Homo sapiens: one gene and its partner. The protein of the gene in region 2 purifies or fractionates together with the protein of the main gene of each other region. This does not show direct contact. Each region holds a gene or a part of one and is shown on either strand. Other genes may lie near its edges.

The links. Proteins that work in one complex are often made in the same cells at the same time.
Region 1: the proteins of ARMC1 (region 2) and MAP2 purify together in Homo sapiens (affinity purification with mass spectrometry; 3 studies listed by BioGRID and IntAct, with this or other methods). This does not show direct contact.

Annotation. Positions count from the first base shown.
Region 1 is NC_000002.12:209,426,905-209,430,634, reverse strand, and holds part of MAP2 (microtubule-associated protein 2), read right to left. Parts: intron 1-3,730. UniProt on the Homo sapiens protein: The exact function of MAP2 is unknown but MAPs may stabilize the microtubules against depolymerization. They also seem to have a stiffening effect on microtubules.
Region 2 is NC_000008.11:65,627,678-65,631,177, reverse strand, and holds part of ARMC1 (armadillo repeat-containing protein 1), read left to right. Parts: intron 1-3,500.

The sequences.
Region 1 (3,730 bases), on a different chromosome or scaffold from region 2:
TACCATTTGATTTCAATAATGAACAATGGAATCTGGACTATCTTAATCCAAACAGAAAAATACAGCAATACTTTAATATTAATCTAATTTGATTTCATTAATAAATACTTGGTCATTGTTTTCCCTATTAAATTGTATTTAATACCAACTGTTCTCATGTGGAATCAACTGATTGCATAATAATTGATTTCACCAATGAAAAAAGCAAATATATAAAAGTCTAACTCTATCTTAGAAAGTAATTATACACAAACACACAAATACCACCACTGCCACCATCATGTTAGCCCTTGTGAAACACCAGGTAGACAAAATTAGCAGGCTGAGAAGTTGTTACAAGTATTATAATTCCATGTTCTCATCCACTAAGTAAAGAAATTGTATGCTACAGATTGAAAATTTTGTTCAAACAATAAATAAGTTTTGTAGCAAATTAAAGAATCAAATATTTTCCTGGCTATACTAGATGACCTATTAAGATAAAAAGAATGAATAACTGAATCCTAAAAACTTTTTTGCTTGTTTTTCAAAGTGGGCCAAAAGGACGTAGTGAATCATATAAACAACAATAAAAAATAGGCAGCCTATTACTTAATACATTATTTTGCTCAAAAAGGTAGACTCTTAAGGGAAGAGAAAATTACCAATTTGAGAGGTACAATACCCAAATAAAATAGTAAAATGTCAAAGCCGAGCATTATTTAATTGCCTTAATACCAATCAAAATGATACCATATTATTCATTTTAAAATTGATGAACACTTTCTCATGCCAATTCATTATGTAATTTCAGCACCATGCATTAACAACACAATGTTGTACTTTTAAATTGTTGTAATGCAAAGGTAGTAGCCACCTAAAATCCATTACTACTTAAATAAATGTAAAGGGTTCATATTGAAATGATGGTTTTGTCTCAAATAGAGTCAGTTTGTATATTTACTTGTGAGTTTGCTTTAACTGTAAAGGACCTAGACAGTTAAGCGATGAAATATCTCATGATATTCAAGCACTGTATTTTATGGTCATTTTTGAGGTAGATTAAGATGGCTAATGATGATGCTATACAGAGAAATGTAATTAGGAATATTTTACTTAAAATTAAATTAATTTAGTTCAACATTTACTGATTGCTCATAGAGTAGTTCATACTTCACTTAATAGGTACACATTAGTGGAACTAGTTAACTAACATAAAGACAATGGACTGCCTGACACATAGTAACTTTACTAGTTGTTAAAAAAAAAAAACTAGTTGAACCATGTTTTATAGTGTCTGATGAACAAAATAATAAAAAGTCAGTTGGCTAGCCAAATTTTTTATTTAAAAAAATTCGTTGTATACATGTATTACTTTTGTCTGAAAATGTCTTTAAAGTAATTGCCGGGCACGGTGGCTCATGACTGTAATCCCAGCACTTTGGGAGGCTGAGGCGGGCGGATCACGAGGTCAGGAGATCGAGATCATCCTGGCTAACAAGGTGAAACCCTGTCTCTACTAAAAATACAAAAAATTAGCCGGGAGCGGTGGCGGGCGCCTGTAGTCCCAGCTACTCGGGAGGCTGAGGCAGGAGAATGGCGTGAACCCGGGGGGCGGAGCTTGCAGTGAGCCGAGATGGCGCCACTGTACTCCGGCCTGGGCGAAAGAGCGAGACTCCGTCTCAAAATAAATAAATAAATAAATAAATAAATAAATAAATAAATAAATAAAATAAAATAAAGTAATTCAAAGAAGGCTAATGAGGACACATTGAGGCGAGCAATTACCTATAACCTAAGGGAACCTGAATAAACTTGGATACAAACTAATCGGGAGAAATAGGGTAGTAACTTTTCTTCTGGTTTTTAAAGGCCTTTTTGAGGTACAAAGCGTTATGAAAGATTGGTATACAAGGAAAAAACTGTTGAAGCCTAGGGGATATAAAAGCCAAGTTCAAAGAAAGGACCAAGATAGGGATGGAGCCTTGAGAAGGAGGAGAGGTTAGCATAAAACTTCATGTTAAATGAGAAATATAAATATAATGAAAAATAAATTTCAATAAGAATATCAGGCTATAATTTCATTTTCTAAAGACCAATGTTTATTTTGCCAATACAAACTGAAAGAAAGGAGCAATCTAAGTAAAGAAGAAAAGAAAAGGGAAAGAGGAGAATGGAAAGAAGACAAAAAAGGAAAGAAAAAAGTCAAGGTATGTGATCTTAAAAGTAAATTATTTGCTCATTAACATAACAAAAAGCAAAAAAAAAAAAAAAGAAATTTGCCCCCTCTAGTGTGTGTTTTAACGGAAAACAAACTGTCTAAAACTTTCCCCAACTTCCACAATATAAACTTAACAGTAGACTGAAAGAGGATCCTGAGCTCTTTATTTTGTCTAACTTTCCATAGAATTTTACTGAAATGTTTAAGTAAAATGTATTACAGTTAAAGTACTACCATTCAAAGGAAAGCTTATGTCTTGAACAGGAAAGATCAAAGATTAGATTCAAAGTGTTTTTCATAAAAATTCATCTAATTGTGTTCACATCATTTTAAAATTCTGAATTCACCTAATTCACTGTAAAACTCCTTCCAATAAACATACTGTATAATTTTTATAAGGAAGCACCATGGCCTTAGTTCAAAGACATGACAGGGGAGGGATGGGGACAAAATATGTTGAAACAGAAAAACAAAACATTTATTCCTTCTTCACCCTCTTAGACAAAAAGGCTCATCTCTACCCTACATGGACAGCTTTTAATAGCTGAGAATTTGCTTTCATTCCACATCTTCCTCTACGCCCACCCACCTACCCACCCACCCAAACCTTCATACAGACTGTCTCCCTTGACTTTGGCCTTTTGTGTACTACATATTAATTTGCAGACTTTTAACTGCTTTTGGTGCCTAGAATCATTTTCTGCAATTGAAAACTGAGAATATCAAAAGTTGTTTCTCATAATGAATAAATAAATACATAAATGGTAATAAGTGCTCTCCTTAATGAAAAATAAAGGCCAAATTTGTATCAAGAGAGTAACATTACTGAAACCAAAATAGCTAGAGAACAGTAAGTCTAACATCCAAATGTCGAATTAAAAAGAATGATGTGAAGGGAGGGAAAATATGGTGAAATGATCAAAATACAGTCCTTACATGAAAAGGTCTAGATTGAGTAGATAAAGGTAATGGCAATAGTAAAGAGATAATTAAAGTAGCAAAAACACTTGATATATCTGAGAGAATCAGATATGACTCAAAGAGTTTATTAGCATCTTTAACTAATCTATAACAGAGACAAAAAAATTTGAGATTGTTTCAAAACTGTTATCTTCAGGTTCATGCATTTACTAATGACTTACCTAAAGTGACTACTTTTAGCATTAAGGAGGATAGTATTGATCTGGGGGTGGTGCTATCTTCTACTGTAACTATTATTTCAGATTCTTTATCTTAATCTGTTAAGAGGAAATTAAGTATTGAAAGGATTCAATAATCAGAGTTACCAACTTGAATACTAAAATCCCCATGTCAGTTTCATATGGTCAGTCTCAAAAGGACATCAATGAATCACTGAAGGATGCACCTATTGTCCTATAAGCAAATGTAATAATGATTTTTTAAAATGCCAACAGTGCAACTACATTTGTTAATAGCATGTCCAGTCTGTTGTCTAACTGCTAGTAAAATTCAATACAAAATATGTGTGTGTGATAAGAAAATACACAAAAATACACCAACATTTTTCTT
Region 2 (3,500 bases):
AAGAAAAATGAGTCTTAACTGTGAGGAGTTCTCTCCTGAAGTTTTACATAAAACCCTTCTAATTTGAGGGACAAATCACAGCTTCTGTCAGCTTTTCTTGCCTTCCTTTAAATGCCATGGGAAATGCAGTGACCACAGTTTCTGCCTCTGTTATACAGTAAACCCATGACATTGTCTGATTCAACCAAGCATGAATCGAAAATACTGTACAATAGTCTCAGGATTTGAAACCTGTGGATACAGAGCACCAACTGCATTAGCTAAGGTCTTTGATGGATCCTGTGCAGATGCTGATTTGAGCCCAATCCTTATCAGTGCTCTTTGAAGACTGGAAGGTTTTTTGTTTGTATTTTTTTTTTTAGACGGAGTCTGGCACTGTTGCCCAGGCTGGAGTGCAATGGCACTATCTCGGCTCACTGCAACCTCCGCCTCCCGGGTTCAAGCGATTCTCCTGCCTCAGCTTCCCAAGTAGCTGAGATTACAGGCACCTACCACCATGCCCAGCTAATTTTTGTATTTTTAGTAGAGACGGAGTTTCACCATGCTGGCCAGGCTGGTCGCAAACTCCTGACCTCAGGCGATCCGGCTGCATTGGCCTCCCAAAGTGTTGGGATTACAGGCGTGAGCCACTGCGCCTGGCTGAAGATTGGAAGTTTTAGTTGTTTTGATTTTTATTCATCCCAAAGGAACAGGAAAGCTATGTAACTTTTTTTCAGTATAGTTCCTACTGAATAGTTATCTAATGGCTCCTTGAATGAGAATGGAACTCTTCAGTTTCAAGGCCAGCGTTGTATGCAAAAGGCCAACACCCAGAGTGTTTGGTTCTTTTTTCCCTGATTTATTTTAAAACATTTTATTGTAAATTGGTAATTTATAGTTGTATATATTTATGGGGTACAAAATGATGTTATGATTCATGAATATAAAGTGGAGCAATTAAATCAAGCTAGTTAACATATCTATCACCTTATACTTATTTTTTGTGGTGAGACCACTTGAAATTTACTCACAGCGATTTTTTTCTGTTTTGCTTTTGAGACAGTCTAGCTCTGTCACCCAGGCTGGAGTGCAGTGGCACAATCTCGGCTCACTGCAACCTCCACCTCCCGAGTTCAAGCAGTTCTCTGGCCTCAGCCTCCCAAGTAGCTGGGATTCCAGGTTTGCGCCACCATGCCCGGCTAATTTTTGTATTTTTAGTAGAGATGACGTTTCACCATATTGGTCAGACTGGTCTCAAACTCCTGACTTCAGGTGATCCACCCGCTTTGTCCTCCCAAAGTGCTGGGATTACAGGCATAAGTCACCACCCCTGGCAACTCATAGCCATTTTAAGACCGAGAATATACTGTTTTGTTTTGATTTTTTTTTTTTTTTTTTTTGAGACGGAGTCTTGCTCTGTTGCCCAGGCTGGAGTGCAGTGGTACAATCTCGGCTCACTGTAACCTCCATCTCCCAAGTTCAAGCGATTCTCCTGCCTCAGCCTCCCGAGTAGCTGGGATTACAGGCGCCCGCCAGCACGCCCAGCTAATTTTTGTACTTTTAGTAGAGACGGGGTTTCACCACGATGGTCAGGCTGGTCTTGAACTCCTGACCTCATGATCCGCCTGCCTTGGCCTCCCAAAGTGCTGGGATTATAGGTGTGAGCCACCGCGCCCATCTGGAATACACTATTATTAACTATATTCACCATCTTGTGCAATAGATGTCAAAAAAACCCTCACTTATTCCTACTACGACTTTGTATCCCTTGATCCTCATCTCCTCATTTTGCCTATCTGCCAGCCTTTTACCACCATTCTGTTCTCTGCTGCTGAGTTCTATTGTTTTAGATTCAACAGTTAAGCAACAATATGCAGCATTTCTCTTTCTGTGCCTAGTTTACTTCATTTAGCACAATGTTCTCCAGTTCTGTCCATGTTGTCACAAGTGACAGAATTTCCTTCTTTTTTAAGGGTGAATAGTATTCCATTTGTGTCATTGTGTATGTATATCACATTTTCTTTCTTTCTTTTTTTTTTTTTTTGAGATGGAGTCTCGCCCTGTCATCCAGGCTGTAGTGCAATGGCGCAATCTCGGCTCACTGCAACCTCCGCTTCCCAGGTTCAGTCAGTTCTCCCTGCCTCAGCCTCCTGAGTAGCTGAGATTACAGGCACCCACCACCAAGCCCAGCTAATTTTTGTATTTTTAGTAGAGACAGGGTTTCACCATGTTGACCAGGCTGGTCTTGAACTCCTGACATCAGGTGATCCACCCGCCTTGGCCTCCCAAAGTGCTGGGATTACAGGCGTGAGCCACTGCACCCGGCCGATATGCTGATTTTTTTTGTTTGCTTGTTTTGAGACAGAGTTTTGCTCATGCAGTGGCACAATCTCAGCTCACTGCAATCTCTGCCTCCTGGCTTTAATAAATTCTCCTGCCTCAGCCTCCCGAGTAGCTAGGATTACAGGTGCGTGCCACCATGCCCGGCTAATTTTGTATTTTTAGTAGAGATGGGGTTTCACCATGTTGGCCAGGCTGATCTCGAACTCCTGACCTCAGGAGATCTGCCTGCCTCGGCCTCCCAAAGTGCTGGGATTACAGGCATGAGCCACCATGCCGGGCCAAAATACTGATTTTAAAACGAAAGTATGAGGCTGGACACGGTGGCTCATGCCTGTAATCCCAGCATTTTGGGAGGCCAAGGCGGGCAGATCATTTAAGGTTAGGAGTTTGAGACCAGCCTGACCAACATGGTGAAACCTAGTCTCTACTAAAAATACAAAAAAAAAAAAAAAAAAAAAAAAAAATTAGCCGGGCGTGGCTAGGAGGCTGAGGCAGGAGAATTGCTTGAACCGGGAGGCGGAGGTTGTAGTGAGCTGAGGTTGTGCCACTGCATTCCAGCCTGGGTGACAGAATGCGACTCTGTCTTGGAGAAAACAAACAAAACAAACAAGGAAAACAAAGTATGCAAAGTGGAAAGACTGCTGATGAGTTTAGGAAATAGTAAATAATATTTTAGGCCAGTTCTATGCTAACTAGATTTTGTGATGTGGGGCAAATTATTGAACCTCTCTATGACTAGCTCCTCATCTGGCAAATGAATTATGTCAAATTCTACTTCATTCTTCCTATTTTTGCTTTTCTGTTAGGCAGTAGAATATGGCATAATCAGATGGACAGAGGTATTTAGATTCAGTGTAGATTCACTATGATCTTTCACACTCTACTGGCCTGAGCCACAGGCTAAATACCTTTCCTGTCTTCTTGATTTACAGACTTCTGCCTCCTTTTTCCAAGGGCATTTTATTCTTTGTAGACAGAGTATGCTAGGTTTTTGTTCACTGATGAATAAGAAAGCTGTAAACTAGCCACTTTTCCCTCGGGCACTTGTTTTAGGGCTAGAAATAGTCTAGAGGATAAAAAGCACTGGCAATATTAACAGTTTTAGAAGTATAGCAAAGCTTACTAGCTTGAACTGTAAAGATCTTTATTGTGATTTTATTGTTAAAATATGTGTGCTA